4 linked regions of the Homo sapiens genome follow. The protein of the gene in region 1 purifies or fractionates together with the protein of each later gene. This does not show direct contact. Each region holds a gene or a part of one and is shown in the gene's direction. Other genes may lie near its edges.

Region 1 (3,500 bases):
CAGATGGGCAGACCCTGTGTCATTGCTCAGGGAGTTCACAGTGTATTCATCCACTATAATAGGGTATGTTCCATAGAATTTGTCTTTCTGTTGTTAAAATCACGTCAGTCCTTTTTAGGGCCATACCTAGCGTCTGCTTTCTGATCTACAAGTAGAGTGGAGCTCTGAATGTTAAATGACAGGGATAAAGACCAAAGGACATCTGCCGTAATTCCTCAGTCAAAATTAAGGTCTGCAAGGTTGGAGGGTCCAGATGCTCACCCCTACTGGAGGAACAGCTCAGAATAAATGAGGTGTCTCCTTAGCAGCAGGGGCTGTAAATGCTGGCAAGAGAAAAGTATGGGTTATAAGAGCTGGCACTGTGACAGGATTTTTTTCCCCTGTTTTTTAGTTTAGTTGTCTCCCACCCCTTGTAGTACCAGTAGCAATATATTCCCATCGTCTGCTTTGCCTCTGCCACCTGCAGAAGGGTCTGGCAAGTGGGGGAGGAGCCTGCAGCTGTTGCCTGGAAAAGGAGCTGGCTCCTAGCAACAGTATCAGCAGGCCCTACAACTGAGAGCACCAAGTTTGTCCTTTGAGGTCTTACCCTTCCTTTCATACAGTTCAGCAAATATCTTTTGAGGGCTTACTTAGTACTAGGCACTATGTCAAGCCTGAGAAAGATAGATGAATCAAATAAGTACCTTGCCTTCAAAAAGCTCACCACTCTGGGTACATTAACAAGTGAACAGACATAGTACATGGTCCTAAGTGCTATGTAGGAGAGACTGGGTGCTCTGGGAAAACCAGACAGGCACGTACTGGTGCAGGGGTTAGGGAAGGTTTCCCAGAAGAGGGACGAAGTTAATGATGAGTAGGAATTAGCTAGGTCAGGTAGGCAGAGAAGGATGTTCCAGCCAAAGGGAACAGAACGAGCAATGGCCAGTGGGACATGAGAGCATGGCCAGTTTACCTGGGTAGTATGACAGGGCCAAAGAGTAGGACATAAGGAGATGAGCAGGAAAGGGTGAGGCTCTAGGGCTAGGCAGAGTACTCTTCTCTCATGTGCTTTTATACACATAATTATCCTTGAGAGAAACATGGATAGTACTGATTCCCACACACAGGTTCATTGTTTCATCTCCAGAGACTCAGCATTTTTGATCACGGACCTAATTGTGTGCTGACACTCATAAGTGCCTTCAGGGCCACATTGTGGCCCCACATTGATGCAGAAGAAGCTGAGTTGGTTCACTCTAAAACTCAATCAGATTATTTTAGGGATATTATCAGGCATGTATGATATTCTACCTCTCTTCTCCCTTTAAATTGTAGAAATAATCCTCAAATACCTTCATTTTATGTAACATAGCAATTTTTCATGTATTTTGAAATCTCATGGTTACTCAGGAGGAAAACAAGTATTCCAGTTAGTTCTTGGGCATATATTATTACCCACATGACTGCAGAAATGCCCAACTGTTTGACTTTTTTATGTTAAAACTGCCCTAATAGAACTTTAATAGATACGAAGTTTCCAAAGGCTAGAATAGTTTTTATGTAGCTCTTGTAATGGAGGTATTTATTTGTAGATAAAAAAAATCCTGTTGCTTTTGGTCTTTGTAAAGTTTAGCAAACGAGTAAATGTTGGTTCCACACTATCTGCTCGGGGACTATAAGATGCCAGGACACTGTGTTATAGAGTCTGCATGAATTCAGCGTGGTTCCTTTTCTCAAGGAGCCCAAAGCAGCAGATGGCAGACTCAGAAACAAATAAATACAACAGTGCACCGAGTGCAACCAAGAAGTGTGTGGAATGTGTCAAGCTAGCAAGGGAGTTATTTATTTCTAGTCTTTTTTCTGTGTCTAAACATGTTTTTTAAAAATTCATAATTTTAATGGCTTTATCACATTCCATGGTACGTGTAAGTCATAATGTATTTATTAACATCCCAATTGTTAGACATTTAGGTCGTTTTCCAATTGTTTTGCTAATATAAACTTGCTGCCATTAATTTACACATAAATGAATCTTTGCTGACATCTGTGACAACTTCCTTAGCATGAATTTTGAAGATGAGATTTTGACCTGGGTTTCTGTTTGTTTTTTTTTGAGACGGAGTCTCGCTCTTGTCACCCAGGCTGGAGTGCAATGAAACAATCTTGGCTCACTGTAACCTCTGTCTCCCGGGTTCAAGCGATTCTCTTGCCTCAGCCTCCTGAGTAGCTGGAACTACAGGCACGCACTACCACGCTCGGCTAATTTTTGTATTTTTAGTAGAGATGGGGTTTCACCATGTTGGCCAGGCTGGTCTCGAACTCCTGACCTCAGGTGATCCGCCCGCCTCGGCCTCCCAAAGTGCTGAGATTACAGGCGTGAGCTAATGCGTCCGGCCTTGACCTGGGTTTTGAAAGAAGAGTGGGAGATGGCCAGATAAACAAGAAAAAGGGAAGAGTAGGAAGGGGCATTCCAGGTAGCGGCAATAGAGGCAACCTTGAATGCCAAAGTTCCCAGGCAACTGGTGAGTTTTGCTTTTCCTAAACCAGCCACCAGGCCTGCCTGGTAGGCTCATAAAGCCCTGGGCACAGCAAGATGAAGTTACATGTTACAAATGGCATTTTAATTGGATTTGCTTCCCTGTGCCTTGCTTTTACAGTTGCAACCAAGGCAATGTCTTACTACCTCAGCTCAGAAAACCACCTGGACCCAGGGCCCATCTACATGCGAGAAAATGGGCAGCTGCACATGGTCAATCTGGCTCTGGATGGTGTCAGGAGTAGCCTGCAGAAGCCAAGGCCTTTCAGACTGTTCCCCAAAGGCTTTTCTGTGGAGCTTTGCATGAACAGGGAAGACGACACTGCACGGAAAGAGAAGACTGATCATTTCATCTTCACATACACCCGAGAGGGGAATCTTCGGTACTCCGCCAAATCCCTCTTCAGCCTTGTCCTGGGTTTCATCTCCGACAATGTGGATCACATTGATTCCCTTATTGGCTTTCCTGAGCAGATTGCTGAAAAGCTGTTCTCTGCTGCTGAAGCCAGACAGAAATTCACTGAGCCAGGTGCAGGGCTGAGGGCTTTACAGAAATTCACTGAGGCCTATGGAAGTTTGGTGCTTTGCTCCCTGTGTTTGCGAAACAGGTGGGTGTTCTGATTAGATTATTCGGTATTTTATTGGGTGTGTTAATTCTGTCAAGCTCTGGGGCTTAGTGGGCTCAGGGGCTTCCCTCATCAAATAGCACTTCAGTTTAGAACTTCCAAATATGAAGTAAAAGACCATATTGAAAAAAATCACTCTTCCTTCTCCTCACCTCTTAGATGACACTTAACTTTATTCTGAAATCATTTTACAAGGATTAGTTGTCACAGCTCCTCCATTAAGTAGAAAATATTATTCTAACAGCTTTCAAAGAGAAAATAGAAAAGACAAAATGTGATCTGCCAAATATCTCTTGATACGCTCTTACAGATGGGGAGATTAGTACCCAGAGTTTTTGGGCCTGTTTTTGGTTTTCAGA
Region 2 (5,591 bases), on another chromosome or scaffold:
CCTAGAGAAGGTTGTGGTAAAGGCATAATAGATGGCTGGCCTGTGAGGAACTGAAATTTAAAGTTTAATAAAAATACCTTTCTTAACTCTTTTAGACCTTCTCTTCCACCTTCTAAACAAGCTAACAAGAATCTGATTTTGAAGGCTATATCTGAAGCTCAAGAATCCGTAACAAAAACAACTAACTACTCTACAGGTAATTTAAATGTATTATGTTTACACTTGGTAAGACATTTCTGTAATTCTTGAGTAAGGTGAAAATGATTGCTCCTTAAATTGTAAAATAAAGGTGCCTGTCAGATGTCAAGACCAAGATGAGGTTCCCATATAGAAAAATGGCTTTAAAAGGAAATTGACAAGTTTGAGAAACTTCGCCAACTGTTATTGGACTGTAGTTTTTCAAGCACCATATAATGCCTTTTATATCTTTCCAATGTGTGTAAAATATATAGTACGTAAATATTTTGAAGAGAATTTTGATGAAGTAGGACTTTCATATTAGTAGCATTAGATTCAACATTAGATATGAATTTACGATGTGTAAAGGGGAGTACAATTGGACAATGATAGGTATCTGAAGTTATAGAAATTTGTTAAACAGTAGTATATAAACAAGGTTGGTTTCTTCCCTTTTGGCGGAACTCATTAGTAGAATATAAGGCAGAGAATTGACTCATTTGTGATGTTCCTGCTCCAATTCTAGTGGAAGTACTGAATAATTTTATGAGAGAATATAAAAGTATTACGTTTTCAAAACAGGAGATGAATCAGCTGTAAGCTGGTCTTACGGAAAGCTGATTCTGAAATGCAAACAACTGATGGGTGTCATTTTGTGTTGTCAAATTCTGTACTCTCTGGCCGACCTGTTGTAGCCAATGTGTAAACTTGTGTTAAGAAGCTGATGGTAATGAGCTACTCTAAAAAGATTTAAGTTTTGCTGTGGATTTGGTGGGTGTACTTACAGCATTGCCCTGCTTATCCACTCTCTCGCTTTTTTTTGTGACCCCCCTTCCTAAAATGAGGTAAACTGTAGCCATCAGTTTTTTTATTTGTTTTCTTTTTTTGAGGCGAAGTCTTGCTCTGTTGCCCAGGCTGGAGTGCAGTGGTGTGATCTTGGCTTACTGCAATCTCTGCCTCCTGGGTCCAAGCGATTCTCCTGCCTCAGCCTCCCAAGTAGCTGGGATTACAGGCGCCCACTACCATGCCAGGCTAATTTTTTTGTATTTTTAGTAGAGGCGGGGTTCCACCATGTTGGCCAGGCTGGTCTCGTACTCCTGACCTCAGGTGATCACCTGCCTCCTCGGCCTCCCAAAATGCTGGGATTACAAGCGTGAGCCACCGCGCCTGGCACCATCAGTTTTTGATCCTGATACTTGTCTGTCCTCTTGGTTCTCCTCATCCCTAATTTAACCTTGAACACAAAATTCAACAGGTTTTGGCATATAGAATAAAGATTATCAGGCAAAGGCGCACTCTTGACCTAATGATATATCTACATTTCATTTCCTGATCTATCAGCAATATTAATTGTCTAGAATGATGAGAAGTTTAGAGAAGTTCCATGACTTTGAAATTTTCTTTCTTTACCTAGGTTATCTAAATTACAATTTGAAACTCATATAAGATCATGAAGCTAAGCTTAAATAAACCGCATTTTGTTGAAAATGAATACATATGTACTATATTGTATTCATGGTATGTGGTTGTATGGATATTGTTTACATATGTTTGGATAAATAGGTTCAGGTATCTATCTCAGTAACGTAAGAAAAAATGAATGGTATCTATGGATTGAACTCCTCATATATATGTTCTTTTCTTTTCTTTTTCTTTTTTTTTTGGAGACAGAGTCTCACTCTGTTGCCCAGGCTGGAGTGCACAGTGGTGCAATCTCGGCTCACTGCAACCTCCGCCTTCCGGGTTTAAGCAATTCTCCTGCCTCAGCCTCCTGAGTAGTTGGGATTACAGGTGTGTGCCACTATGCCCGGCTAGTGTTTGTATTTTTAGTAGAAACGAGGTTTTACCATGTTGGCCAGGCTGGTCTCAAACTCCTGACCTCAAGTGATCCACCCACCTTGCCTCCCAAAGTGCTGAGATTACAGGCATGAGCCACTGCGCCCAGCCTGAACTCATATGTCCTAAACCAAAGGAGGCATTTATATTTAATATGACATAGTCACTGTGGAGTTTTGACGTATTACTGCATTTGTATTTCTATCTTTTTTGCTTTTATGTGAAAGTTCCACAGAAACAGACACTTCCAGTTGCTCCCAGAACTCGAACTTCTCAAGAAGAATTGCTAGCAGAAGTGGTCCAGGGACAAAGTAGGACCCCCAGAATAAGTCCCCCCATTAAAGAAGAGGAAACAAAAGGAGATTCTGTAGAAAAAAATCAAGGTAATAACTTAAATGATGTTTCACTCTTTACTACAGTTTTTTCATGAGGCATTGAATATTTTCCAATGGATTTTTATGAAATATTACACTATGAAAAAAGTGATGATTAAGCCCAGAAATAGAATGAGAAGAATACCATGAGGAAGGTTCATACCAACACTTCAGAAAAAAATTTTTTTTTTAAAGAGGTAGGGTCTTGCTGTGTTGCCCAGGCAGTCCTCAAACTCCTGGGCTCAAGCAGTCCTCCTGCCTCAGCATCCTTAGTAGCTGGAGGTGTGTACAAGTGTGTGCCACTGCACCCAGCCCTTTCTAGAAATTTTTGAAAGTCTTTTTATTGTGGAAATTTTTAATATTCTCAAAAATGGAAAGGCTAGTACAGTGAACTCTCATGAACCCAGTCATTAAGCCTTAGTTATTATCAGAATTTTGCTGGTCTTTAGATAGCTCCTTCTTAAAGATATATTTATTTCTGCATTCTTTCTTTTTCTCTTTTTGTTGATCCTGCCCGTTTACCTGAACTTGAAATTTTAGTTACCTTTAAATCTCCCGTCTCTTAAGCATCCTGTCTCTGACCTCCCATATGTGTCCCAGCAACCCTAATTTATCCCCTCGTGCCTAACATACTTCAGTTTGCTTCCAGGTTTTTTTTTTTTTTTTTTTTTTTTGCTTTTTTCTCAGCTTTCTCCCCCAATTCCTATACAATCTTTTGACTTTGAAAGTGTGTCTCTCATCTTCTGACTCCTTTGTGAAAGTATCTCTCCCCTCCTCCTCATTACCCAGAACTAACGCTATTAGTTTGGACTTTTGGTGTCTGTTATCTGACCCCTGGGCCTGCACAGCCCTTCTCCATGACTCTTCAGACCTTTTGTCTCTTTTGTCGTCAAGAAGGATTCTTTTTTCTTCTGTTTCTTTTTCTACTAAGATTTGAATTTTAAGACCCCACCAAAAAAATCTATATGCTTATTATGTTATTTCTCACATACTTTTCAAGAACCTTGGAATATATTTTTTCATTTCTTCAAAACTGTCCTTTAAATTGTTCCAGGTTTCATGAAACCTTATGATTTCAGAATTGTCAATTCTGTATTTGTTTCCTCATTGTGTCTCTTTAAAAATTTTTGACTGTATTGTTCAGTTTGCCATGACAGCGTTATATACTATTCTGATAATTGATAGGCCTGAGGACAAGACCTGTTTGGTCCCCAAACAGCAGATAGGTACCAATTGGAAAATGTGAATGGGCCAAATTGAGAAGAGGAGCTGAAACTGAGGAGGGATTTTGCTCAGTGCAGTGGCAGATGAGGCTGATCTAAAAGGACTGCAGTGGTCTACTCCCTGTGGAGTCTGTAGTGTGTTGCACCAAGGTTTTCTTCAAACACAGGACTCTACGTGAGAGTCTTGGAGTGGAATCAGATGGAGCAGGGAAACAGACAATAGAGAAAAGGAAAGAATGTCAGATAAAAATAGGAGAGGAAAACAATAGGAAATCTCAAAGCAAGGTGCCATATTTTTTAACATCACAAAATCAACAGAAGAAGGTTGTTGATTCTGAAGTTAGAATAGCTATCCAAAGCAAACTTTCCCCTAAAATGAACAACAGAAAAGTATCAAGGTCAAGTCCTGTGCCGAATTAAAAGATAAAAGGGAATAAAAGACAAAACAGCATTGTTTCAATGAAAGCATGCTGAAAGGTATACCAAAAAGAAATACAATTTCAAAGTGAGCTAGAAGACATTATTTAAATAATACAAGACAAAGCCAAGAAAAACATAAAACAGAAGAACTTTGAGGCTGGGTGCAGTGGCTCATGCCTGTAATCCCAACACTTTGGGAGGCTGAGGCAGGAGGATCACTTGAGACTAGCCTGGGCAGCATAGCAAAACCCTGTCTCGACAAAAAATAAAAATATTAGCTGGGCAAGGTATACACCTGTAGTCCTGTCTCCTTGGGAGGCTGAAGTGGGAGGATTGCTGGAGCCCGGGAGGCTGAGGTGGGAGGATTGCTGGAGCCCAGGAGGCTGAGGTTGCAGTGAGCCACGATCATACCATTGCCCTCCAGGGAGGCTGAGGTGGGAGGATTGCTGGAGCCCAGGAGGCTGAGGTTGCAGTGAGCCATGATCATGCCATTGCCATCTAGTTTGGGCGATAGAGTGAGACTGTGTCTCAAAATAAATGAAGACTAAATTAGAAAGAACTCGAAAGAATTAGTGCGTCTTAATAAAATAAAACATGCGTGTAATCCCAGCAATTTGGGAGGCCAAGGCGGGAGGATCACTTGAGGCCAGGAGTTGAAGATCAGCCAGGGCAACATAGCAAAACCTTATGGCTACAGAAAACAGCAATTTAAAAATAAATAAAATTAAAACATCTTCAGAGAAATTGAAGATAAAAGACAAGAACATTTTAAAAGTCTAAAAGGGCTCATGAGAAAGTGGCAAATATTGATAATAGGCAATAGAAATACAGTGTTTTTATAGTAGGAATCTCCAAAGAAACAATATTCAGAGGAACAGAGCAAACATTAACTGTCTTTCAAGAAAACTTTCATGAAGTGAAAACATGTTTGAAACTGTTGTCTGAAAAATTGTACAGTATACCTGAGAATATTTACCCAGAACCATAACACTAAGATGTATTATATAATTAATGAAATTTTAAAAAGAAAAAAAATGATTTGGACATTCAGGCAAAAGGGGCACATGACTTAGAAGAAAAGGAAAGGTAGATTATCATCAAACTTTTCAACAGCATCACTTTTGTGCTGGAAGAAAATGGACTAGCATATTTAAGATACTCCAGAAAAGAAAATGTGAGCCAAGAATTTAATGTCCAGCAAAAGTGACCTTTAGAAGTGATCCAGCACCAACTGTTATCTATATGCAGAAATTCAGAGACTCATTCCCATGAACTTTTCTTAGGAAATCTAATGGAGGATGAGCTTCAGACAAGTAAAAGCCTGTTGTCCTGAATTTACATTGGAAATGTTTCGGAACTCACAGTGTATTTTATATATAAATACATTTTTTTCTAGTTCTGTCTACTAGAAGGCATAGAAACATTCATCAACCCTTAGCATCATCTGTAGTTCCCAGATTGTGGTCTTGGAATACTTCCTATTTAAAAAACTAGGCTTCTTGGGCTGGGTGCAGTTGCTCACGCCTGTAATCCCAGCACTTTGGGAAGCCGAGGTGGGCAG
Region 3 (5,591 bases), on another chromosome or scaffold:
CTGTCATCCAGGCTGGAGTGCAGCTGCGCTATCTTGGCTCATTGCAACCTGCGCCTCCCAGGTTCAAGTGATTCCCCCTCCTCAGCTTCCTGAGTAGCTGGGATTACAGACACGTGCCACCAGGCCCAGCTAATTTTGTATTTTTAGTAGAGACCAGGTTTCACCATGTTGGCCAGGCTGGTCTTGAACCCCTGACCTCAAGTCATCTGCCCAACTTGGCCTGTCAAAGTTCTGTGATTACATGCATGAGCCACAGCACCCATCCTCCTTCTATTTCTTTTCTGACTTATTTTTTGTCTCTCCCTCTGCTCTTAGGGTTAATAATCTTCACTTCTCTACCTAAATTTTTTTCTTCATTGTGTGTTGTTTTGGTACCGTGTTTTTTTCTGAGGTCAGAAATATTCCCATCAGACGTTGTGGAGCTATTTCTTGATTGTGACTGTGTGTTTCAACCCTTACCTATGAAGATGTTTGTTCATCTAGCAAATATTTATTGAAGACTCATTAGATGTTGGGATACAAAGGTAGACATAGGTGTTCTTATGGTCTCCTTATGGAGTTTATTCCAGTGGGGAGTATAGGTATTTGATAAATATTGAAATTTAGACTGAAACAAGTATTCTGAAGGAAATAAACAAGGGCTGACAGAGGGAAGAAGGAGTGAGGCGAGCCCTGGGTATTTACAGGGATTAGAGTCTTCAGTCATAGCATCCTTAATCCCCTTGAAAAGTTGGAATCACGAATCATAATTGCGTAAATTTAAGTTTCCTTGCTGCCATCTAAGTCTTCAGTCTTCATTTAAGATTGATTGCTACATGTAATATGTGTCTGATATTTAATGTATGATAATACTGGGTTTTACATAGTCAAGGATAACTAGGACTTATAAATATCTAGCATGCTTGACTAATGAGTTTAATTTTTTACTTTTTTTTTGTGGCAGGGTCTCACTCTGTGGCCCAGGCTGGAGTGCAGTGGTGCAATCTTGGCTCACTGCAGCCTCCACCTCCCGGGTTCAAGCGATTCTCGTGCCTCAGCCTCCCGAGTAGCTGGGACTACAGGTGTGTGCCACCACGTCCGGCTAATTTTTGTATTTTGAGTAGAGATGGGGTTTCACCATGTTGGCCAGGCAGATCTCGAACTCCTGACTTTAGGTGATCTGCCCACCTTGGCCTCCCAACATGTTGGGATTATAGGCGGGAGCCACTGTGCCTGACCTGAAGTTGTGTTTCTTTAAAATGAGCTGAAGCAAATTTTATATTTCATGATTTCATCACTTATTTCTACTCTCTAGAATAGATCACAGGTATATATACCTATAGTATAATGAAGCATCTGAAATTTTGCTGAGTTGGAGAGGATTAATAAGCACATTTGATTTGCAGAGAAAATTGGAGTATTTTATTCTAGGCGACCACTGAAAACAGGACAGAAAAATATCTCTCCCCAGACTTTTGAATAGCAGCATAGTGGCACTGAGTCCTGGAGCCAAGCAGCCTGGTTCAAATTCCAGCACCCCTGCTTACTAGCTATACAACTTGGGCAAGTTACTTAGTCTCTCTGTGCCTCTCCTCATCTGTAAAATACCATACAGTTGTTGTAAGAACTAAATTAGTTAATATGTATAAAGCATTTAGAACAGCACTAGGTGCTGTATATGCCAGTTGTTAGTAACAATGTTATTATAACAAAATAAAGTTTTCCAAAAGAACACATGATAATGATTCTTAGATTGAAGTTTAGATGCTTTGGGAAAACTTTAATAGGGAATAGGAAGTTAAAACAGCATATTTGTCCCTCTTTCCCCACAGTACCCTTCAAAATAAAGTAAAAGGATATAGGTTCAAATCCTAGCTAGGAAAAAAAAAGTAAAAAGATGGATCTTTATTTTTAATTAAAAAATTATTTTTTTATTATTTTTTGGAGACAGTCTTGCTCTGGTGCGGTGGCACAATCTTGGCTCATTGCAGCCTCTGCCTCCTGGGTTCAAGCGATTCTTGTGCCTCAGCCTCCCGAGTAGCTGGGATTACAGGTGTGTGCCACCACACCTGGCTAATTTTTGTATTTCTTTTAGTAGAGTCAGAGTTTTGCCATGTTGGCCAGGCTTGTGTTGAACTCTGGCTTCAAGTGATCTGCCCACCTCGATCTCCCTAAGTGCTGGAATTACAGGTGTGAGCCAGTGCGTCCAGTTTTAAAAATCATTATTATTTTCGGCTGGGTGCAGTGGCTAATGCCTGTAATCCCAGCACTTTGGGAGGCTGAGGCGGGTGGATCACCTGAGGTTGGGAGTTCATGACCAGCCTGACCAACGTGGAGAAACCCTGTCTCTGCTAAAAATACAAATTAGCTGGGTGTGGTGGTGCATGCCTGTAATCTCAGCTACTCGGGAGGCTGAGGCAGGAGAATAGCTTGAACCCCGGAGGCGGAGGTTGTGGTGAGCTGAGATCATGCCATCACACTCCAGCCTGGGCAACAAGAGCGAAACTCCGTCTCAAAAGAAAAAAAAAATTATTGTTATTTTCCAATTATAAAAGTCTTTATGCCTGGTGTGGTGGCCCACACCTTTAAACCCAGCAATTTGGGAAGCTAGGAATATATATATATATATATATATATATATTTTTTTTTTTTTTTTTTTTTTTTTTTTTTTGAGATGGAGTCTTGCTCTGTCACCCAGGCTGGAGTGCAGTGGCGTGATCTCAGCTCACTGCAACCTCCGCCTCCTTGGTTCAAGCGATTCTCCTGCCTCAGCCTCCTGAGTAGCTGGGACTACAGGCGTGTGCCATCACGCCTGGCTAATTTTTGTATTTTTAGTAGAGTCGGGCTTTCACCATGTTAGCCAGGATGGTCTCGATCTCCTGACCTCGTGGTCCACCTGCCTCGGCCTCCCAAAGTGCTGGGATTACAAGTGTGAGGCACCATGCCCAGCGTTTTTTTTTTGGAATTATTTATTTATTTATTTATTTTTATTGATCATTCTTGGGTGTTTCTCGCAGAGGGGGATTTGGCAGGGTCATAGGGCAATAGTGGAGGGAAGCTCAGCAGATAAACAAGTGAACAAAGGTCTCTGGTTTTCCTAGGCAGAGGACCCTGCGGCCTTCCGCAGTGTTTGTGTCCCTGGATACTTGAGATTAGGGAGTGGTGATGACTCTTAACGAGCATGCTGCCTTCAAGCATCTGTTTAACAAAGCACATCTTGCACCGCCCTTAATCCATTTAACCCTGAGTGGACACAGCACATGTTTCAGAGAGCACAGAGAGCACAGTCGCCCAGGCTGGAGTGCAGTGAGTGGTGTGATCTCAGCAACCTCTACCTCCCAGGTTCAAGCGTTTCTCCTGCCTCAGCCTCCTGAGTAGCTGGGTTTATAAGCACCCACCACCTCATCCAGCTAATTTTTGTATTTTTAGTAGAGACAGGGTTTCACCATGTTGGCCAGTCTGGTCTTGAACTCCTGACCTCAGGTGATCCACCCATCTCAGCCTCCCAAAGTGTTGGGATTACAGGTGTTAGCCACTGAGCCTGGCAACAATTTTTTAAAATTAGCTGGAAATGGTGGTGCATGCCTGTATTTCCAGCTGCTTGCGAGGCTGAGGCAGGAGGACTGCCTGAGCCTAGGAGATCAAGGCTGCAGTGAGCCAAGATCACACCACTGCACTCCATCCTGGGCATCATCATGGCAAGACCCTGTCTCAGAAAAATTAAAAAAAAAATTCTTTCTAGTGATTATAGCAGAGTGTGTATTTTTCAGTCATTCATTTGTTTTTTTTGTTTTTTTTCTTTTTATTATTATTATTATACTTCAAGTTTTAGGGTACATGTGCACAATGTGCAGGTTAGTTACATATGTATGCATGTGCCATGCTGGTGTGCTGCACCCACTAACTCGTCATTTAGCATTAGGTATATCTCCTAATGCTATCCCTCCCCCCTCCCCCCACCCCACAACAGTCCCCAGAGTGTGATGTTCCCCTTCCTGTGTCCATGTGTTCTCATTGCTCAATTCCCACCTATGAGTGAGAACATGCGGTGTTTGGTTTTTTGTCCTTGTGATAGTTTACTGAGAATGATGATTTCCAATTTCATCCATGTCCCTACAAAGGACATGAACTCATCATTTTTTATGGCTGCATAGTATTCCGTGGTGTATATGTGCCACATTTTCTTAATCCAGTCTATCATTGTTGGACATTTGGGTTGGTTCCAAGTCTTTGCTATTGTGAATAGTGCCGCAATAAACATACATGTGCATGTGTCTTTATAGCAGCATGATTTATAGTCCTTTGGGTATATACCCAGTAATAGGATGGCTGGGTGAAATGGTATTTCTAGTTCTAGATCCCTGAGGAATCGCCACACTGACTTCCACAATGGTTGAACTAGTTTACAGTCCCACCAACAGTGTAAAAGTGTTCCTATTTCTCCACATCCTCTCCAGCACCTGTTGTTTCCTGACTTTTTAATGATTGCCATTCTAACTGGTGTGAGATGGTATCTCATTATGGTTTTGATTTGCATTTCTCTGATGGCCAGTGATGGTGAGCATTTTTTCATGTGTTTTTTGGCTGCATAAATGTCTTCTTTTCAGAAGTGTCTGTTCATGTCCTTCGCCCACTTTTTGATGGGGTTGTTTTGTTGTTTTTTTTTTTTTTTTTTTTTTTTTTTGGAAATTTGTTTGAGTTCATTGTAGATTCTGGATATTAGCCCTTTGTCAGATGAGTAGGTTGTGAAAATTTTCTCCCATTTTGTAGGTTGCCTGTTCACTCTGATGGTAGTTTCTTTTGCTGTGCAGAAGCTCTTTAGTTTAATTAGATCCCATTTGTCAATTTTGGCTTTTGTTGCCATTGCTTTTGGTGTTTTAGACATGAAGTCCTTTCCCATGCCTATGTCCTGAATGGTAATGCCTAGGTTTTCTTCTAGCGTTTTTATGGTTTTAGGTCTAACGTTTAAGTCTTTAATCCATCTTGAATTAATTTTTGTATAAGGTGTAAGGAAGGGATCCAGTTTCAGCTTTCTACATATGGCTAGCCAGTTTTCCCAGCACCATTTATTAAATAGGGAATCCTTTCCCCATTGCTTGTTTTTCTCAGGTTTGTCGAAGATCAGATAGTTGTAGATATGCGGCATTATTTCTGAGGGCTCTGTTCTGTTCCATTGATCAATATCTCTGTTTTGGTACCAGTACCATGCTGTTTTGGTTACTGTAGCCTTGTAGTATAGTTTGAAGTCAGGTAGCGTGATGCCTCCAGCTTTGTTCTTTTGGCTTAGGATTGACTTGGCGACAGTCATTCATTTGATAAATGTTTGTTGCATGTGTATTCCTTCAGTAGGCAGTGAGGATACCATAATGCTGTGTATTATGTACTATGGCTTTTTTTTTTTTGAGTTATGAAATATCCCTGTGAGGCCTTTTACAACTATTTCTTGATTGTGATTCTGCATCTCAATTCGTACCTTTTCAGACTTTTGTTTATCTAGCAAATATTGGTTCTGATCAGAACCAGTCCTTATTGAATGCTTTGTGCCAGGTACTGTAGTAAGCGCTTTGCATTGATTCTTTTCATTCCAACTAACAACCTTATGACGTAAGTAC
Region 4 (5,591 bases), on another chromosome or scaffold:
ACACTGTTATCTATAAATATATAATACATCACCTATAGCCTCTCGACTGCCATGTAACTTGGAGATAGGACAAAACTTCACGGAATTTAAAGATGCTTGGTGTTGGTAGGAAAGGCATGGTAACAGATAAAGCCACTGAGAGAATAGTGGACTGAATAGGTATCTGCATTGAAGAGCAAGCTGGGGCTGGGAACGGCTTTTGAACCTCAACTCAGCTCCCAGTTACCAAGCCTCCTCCCCACCCTAACTGATGGCATATTGGGAGTCTGATTTACATCTGATTTTGTTCTGTGTGTGAGGAAGCTTCTCTAAGAGCAGCGGGATTGGGGGAAATGCAGATTATTTGTATCTGTGAAATTAAGGTTGACTGTAGTTAAAATTTTTAAAAAATCAAAATGTTTCATGATTAACAACTAAATGTTAAACTATTGGTATATTTATAACTATAGTAGAGTTGGTGATAAGGTCTGTTAAGACAGGTTTTGTTCGCTGCCGACTCCCCAGTGCCTAGAACACTGCCTGGGATGTAGTAGGTATTCAGTAAGTATTTGTTGATTTATAGGTTGTGCAGATGAGTGATGTTATAGTCAGTTTTTTCTTTCTAGGTGCAGATGCTAATTTCAGTGTCTGGATTAAAAGGTGTCAAGAAGCTCAGAATGGTATGTGGGTCTCCCTTGGTATTTGTTTCAATTTAAAAAGAAGTAAACATCTGAAATTTTTTTGGTTTAAACAAATTTGTTTTTATCTTTATAATTTCTTTTAAATAGTATACGTTTCCTTAGATGTGGACTTCCAAAGATACACTGGTTTTTGCATAGCTTCTTATGTTGAAAGGGGGATTTGGGTGGATTTGCTTGTATGGTATATCAGTAAGAAATTACTAAGGAGTCTAAAATGAATTCAGGATGCAAAATGAAACCACTTTTCTTTAGTTGAAAGGTACGGAGAATTTGCTTGCTTAATCAGTATGTTTGTGCTATAGAAATCATACAAATAACTTTGCTTAAAAATGCACTGTTCCCTGAAAATGTTTCCTTTTTATGTTTTAATAGGCTCAGAATCTGAGGTGGTAAGTCCAAAGTTTTCATTCTTCATGTTTTTATTATTTTAAATTTCAGCTACCAAATATATTTGAGACAAGACTCAGGATGAGCTGTCTGATATTTAAATATTAAGCAATTCCATTTAAGTGCTGGTTCCTCTAGGCACTGAAATAAAATCATTTTTTGATAAATATAGAAGTTTCCAGTCATGAAAATTATTGGCCTATTTTAATGAATTTAGTGTGTGGTTAAAGTTGATTTCGTGTGTTTTAATATGGTCATGATGATCATTTATCTTTTCGTTACTAAAACCTTATTGCATTTATTTAGGTTCAACAGTTTGAATCACTTGTAGGGCTTTTTATGATAGGCTAAGACAAAAGTTAAAGAAAATTGGAAATTGACAGGGTCTTGCTCTGTCATGCAGGCTGGAGTGCAGTGGTGCCATCATAGTGCACTTGAGCTTCAAACTCCTGGGCTCAAGCAATCTTCCCACCTCAGCCTTCCAAGTAGCTGGGACTACAGATGTACACCACCAAGCCTGGCTAATTACTCTGTTTCTTTAAAACGATTTTTAAAACAATGTTATTTTAGTTTAGGAAGTTGCTGAATCTTAGAACTGGCCATTTTATATAAGCAACCTTTTCTAATCATGCCTTTAGAAGTTTTCTGTTATTTAAAGTTCTGTTATTTTAGAGCAAAAATCTTTTATGAAATTCAATCTAAGATTTTTTAAATGCTGAGCATTCTAATTTTTTTCCGAAAACTAGTGGTATTTAACAATTACAGTTACTATGTCTTTGAAGAAAATTTTCATGTAGTTATTTTATATCAAAATAACTGCAGTGTTGGGTAAATTAATAATACATGCATTTTAATAATACAGTTGCTAAACTGACTTGTAAAAATCTTTCTCTTTCAACTTACCAAAATCAATCTGCATCCCAGTGGACTCATCAGTCAAAAATCAAGTGAGTGTTTCTTTTTCATAAAACAATGCATGATAAATATGCCTAAAGAGGAAGAAACCCTGTAGTTTAATAGTAAGCAAATTCTTACCATGTGATTTTTAAGTTTTTGTTTGTTTTCTAAAATTGTGTAATAGCTTTATGTAAAGCCAATTTTAAGGCTGTTTAAGGATTAATATTTGTACTTCAGTTAAATTCAAATCATTTCTCATCTTTAAAGTTGCTTCACTTGGTTTCATATTATGTTACCTTTCCATATGTTAAGGAGAGTCTCTTCCAGTTAAGTTTATGTTACTACACAGGTAAACAAGTTAGTAGTAGATCTAACAGAATTGTAACTTAACCTGCCTTTTATATTTGGAGCAAATTTTTCATAGGAACATTCTGTATGCGTTGAAAGTTAATATTGCTGAGGGCAGCAATTATAATAATGAATAAGCAACTAGCAAGTCTTTGACTTTTAATTATTCATTAGCCTGTGTACAGCTTGTATTCTTAGGACCGTAACAGAAACACAAGCCGTTGATCTGGAGCTTTGCATCCTTACTGAATTGCAAAGGGAAACCGAGACTCTTAAAGTTCATTTCTTTAATCAAGGTGGTTTTGGATATAATTACCTAAAATGGCCTGGAAAAGTTAAAAACCATCTATTCATGGTAGTTGTGGGGAGATACAGGATGAAACTCCAAGTACCTAGTAGATAAGGAACTTTGACTTGCCCTGGTGGCAGCAGCAGGGGTAGGGCACATAACCATGAAATAATAATTAAGGTGTTCAGAGCATAAAATAATCCCACATCTAACTTAATATACGTGTACCGGACACTGTGCTTGGTCCTAGGGATATAATAGCGACAGGATAAACAGCTCTGCCCTCAGAGAGCTTTTAATCTAGTCTAATTTGAAAGTGAGGATTCCTACGTTTCTAGAGCTTTCAGTACAAAAGATGCACATAATTAGAATCTAGACCCATTAGTCTTTCCATGTATCTTGAAATTGAAGGAAAGTGTTGTATATGATGTTGTGCCTGACACAGTTAAACTTCATATGATTTTAATTTTAGTTCATTTGCCCCTGTTTTGTGTGCTCAAGTCTATCTGCTTCCAACATCAGTTTTGAGAGCTTGGAGTGTTGACTCAGGCTTATTGCTTCACCTTTCTGAGCTTAAGTTTTATCATCTGTAAAATAGGGATTTAAGTGTTTATCTGTAGTATTTGGATGAAATGAGAGTATAAAAACTCTATTGATGGCATATAAATATTAGCTTGTTTAAAATAAATGACATCTTTAATATTTATATTAGTTTAAGCACAACAGTGCTAGAGATGAGTCAGAACCCAGAAAATCATGCAAGTATTTAAGTCTACTGGAAAGGTGTGAGCATCATTTACCTTACCATTTTTTTCCATTAGTACAGAGCATAAAAAACTAGTTATATAAAGTTGTTTCTGTGAATCAGTAGTTGCTTTGCTGTTTTCTTCCTCCAGGTGGGGCTCTTGTTGTTTATCAGACTAGTTTTTGTTTTGACAATAGCTTTAAAAAAATTAGAAGAGTTACCTAAGTTTCTTTTTTTTTTTTAATAGGTATGACTGGTATCAAACAGAATCTCAAGTAGTCATTACACTTATGATCAAGAATGTTCAGAAGAATGATGTAAATGTGGAATTTTCAGAAAAAGAGGTCAGTAGACTGAATCATTTTTCAATGTTGATTACTATTATTTGCAAATTTAGTATATTGCAGAATAATCGATAACGGTTTATCAGATAAATGCTATTTCTTCCTGAGATGATTTGGAAAATGTTGAATAAAATCTGAAGCCATTGCTTTGAGGTAAGAATATGTATGTTGGTAAATTATAGCTGGATGTGCATTTTTTTCTTTAGATTTGAAATTTAAAGCAGAATTTGGTTATATTAGTAAGATAATGTGCTTTGGTTATACTTGTGTGGTGTACTTCATGAAAAAGATCTAGTTAGTTTTGTGATCACACATGTCTTAGAATTGACTAGCCATGTTAAATGAGTATGACTTTTTTTGTTGTTGTTTTTTGAGACAGAGTCTCGCTCTTGCGTAGGCTGGAGTGCAGTGGCGCAATTTCGGCTCACTGCAGCCTCCTCCTCCTGGGTTCAAACAATTCTCCTGCCTCAGCCTCCTGAGTAGTTGGGACTACAGGCACATGCCACCGTGCCTGGCTAATTTTTGTAGAAACGGGGTTTCACCATGTTGGCCAGGCTGTTGTCGAATTCCTGACCTCAAGTGATCTACCCATCTCAGCCTCCCAAAGTGCTGGGATTAGAGGCATGCACCACCGTGCCCAGCCTCTTGAGTATGACTTTTAACAACTTGATTTCTTACCATTTAGTAGAGAACCTTATAATAGATTATTTAAAAGAGGTAGTGATAGAACTGTATGTTTTGCACATGGATCACTTTTTGTTATATATCATTTTGCTTTTGTATGTTTTCTTGAAATCTAAATATCAAATAGGTGTGATTAAATATATGACAAATATTATGAAACTTATTCTTTTCTGCTGTTTAATGATGTCTATAAGAATTCATGTCAAGGATACCAGATGGAAAAAAAAGGTTCTTAAATCTTTGAGAACCTTTTGAGGTTCTTAAATCTAAAATTCCATATATAATGTTTAAAATAATTTGTAACATTATTGAAGATTTGTCATTATTTTGTGTAGGTTTTTTACCCTCCATTATATACATTTACAAAATGTGATGCTAATTTTGTGTTCATTAGTTGTCTGCTTTGGTTAAACTTCCTTCTGGAGAGGATTACAATTTGAAACTGGAACTTCTTCATCCTATAATACCAGAACAGAGCACGTTTAAAGTACTTTCAACAAAGGTAAGACCATTGAAAAGTTTGTTACTAGTAATATTTTCAAAATTATAGAAATACTGGTGAACTAATCACCCATGTGTTTATAAGCTTGTAGATTCTTTCAGCCCTTTAACAGGGACAAGAAAATAAGAATGATAACTTTTGAGTATAAGGGTTATTTTACCTCTCAAATTCTAGTACAGTAAAGAATAAAAATCCACTTAGAGTGTGTGGCATTTGTGTATTTACTAAGACAGATATAATGTTTTTCAATAAAGGGGTTTTTTTAAAAAGATACAATAATCAGCCTGTCTTTAAGATTTGATACTGACAATGTCTCTTCCCTTGAACTTGTCAGTTTTGTCTGTTTTGATGTACAAATACTTTTGTCACCCTACCTCATGCAGTTAAAAATACAAACTACAAGAAAGATGAATCTGCCTTTTGTTTTTTTTGTTGTTGTTGTTGAGACGGAGTCTTGCTTTGTTGCCCAGGCTGGAGTGCAGTGGCGTGATCTCGGCTCACTGCAACCTCTGCCTCCTGGATCCAAGTGATTCTCCTGCTTCAGCCTCCCAAGTAGCTGGGACTACAGGCATGCACCACCACGCCCTGCTTAATTTTTGTATTTTTAGTAGAGATGGGGTTTCACCATATTGGCCAGGCAGGTCTCCAACTCCTGACTTTTTTTTTTAAACTGAATTTTAGATTACTCTATTATGAGGGAACAATGAGTAAATTA

The links. Proteins that work in one complex are often made in the same cells at the same time.
Region 2: the proteins of LRRC42 (region 1) and ZC3H14 fractionate together in Homo sapiens (co-fractionation; one large-scale study listed by BioGRID). This does not show direct contact.
Region 3: the proteins of LRRC42 (region 1) and AMBRA1 purify together in Homo sapiens (affinity purification with mass spectrometry, with the first as the bait; one large-scale study listed by BioGRID). This does not show direct contact.
Region 4: the proteins of LRRC42 (region 1) and SUGT1 purify together in Homo sapiens (affinity purification with mass spectrometry; 3 studies listed by BioGRID and IntAct, with this or other methods). This does not show direct contact.

The regions. Positions count from the first base shown.
Region 1 is NC_000001.11:53,949,350-53,952,849, forward strand, and holds part of LRRC42 (leucine-rich repeat-containing protein 42), read left to right. Parts: intron 1-2,636; 5' UTR 2,637-2,650; coding exon 2,651-3,123; intron 3,124-3,500.
Region 2 is NC_000014.9:88,575,745-88,581,335, forward strand, and holds part of ZC3H14 (zinc finger CCCH domain-containing protein 14), read left to right. Parts: intron 1-95; coding exon 96-196; intron 197-2,240; coding exon 2,241-2,396; intron 2,397-5,591. UniProt on the Homo sapiens protein: RNA-binding protein involved in the biogenesis of circular RNAs (circRNAs), which are produced by back-splicing circularization of pre-mRNAs.
Region 3 is NC_000011.10:46,582,725-46,588,315, reverse strand, and holds part of AMBRA1 (activating molecule in BECN1-regulated autophagy protein 1), read left to right. Parts: intron 1-871; exon of another isoform or gene 872-1,061; intron 1,062-5,591. UniProt on the Homo sapiens protein: Substrate-recognition component of a DCX (DDB1-CUL4-X-box) E3 ubiquitin-protein ligase complex involved in cell cycle control and autophagy.
Region 4 is NC_000013.11:52,662,044-52,667,634, forward strand, and holds part of SUGT1 (protein SGT1 homolog), read left to right. Parts: intron 1-605; coding exon 606-659; intron 660-1,052; coding exon 1,053-1,069; intron 1,070-1,991; coding exon 1,992-2,014; intron 2,015-3,593; coding exon 3,594-3,690; intron 3,691-4,768; coding exon 4,769-4,876; intron 4,877-5,591. UniProt on the Homo sapiens protein: May play a role in ubiquitination and subsequent proteasomal degradation of target proteins.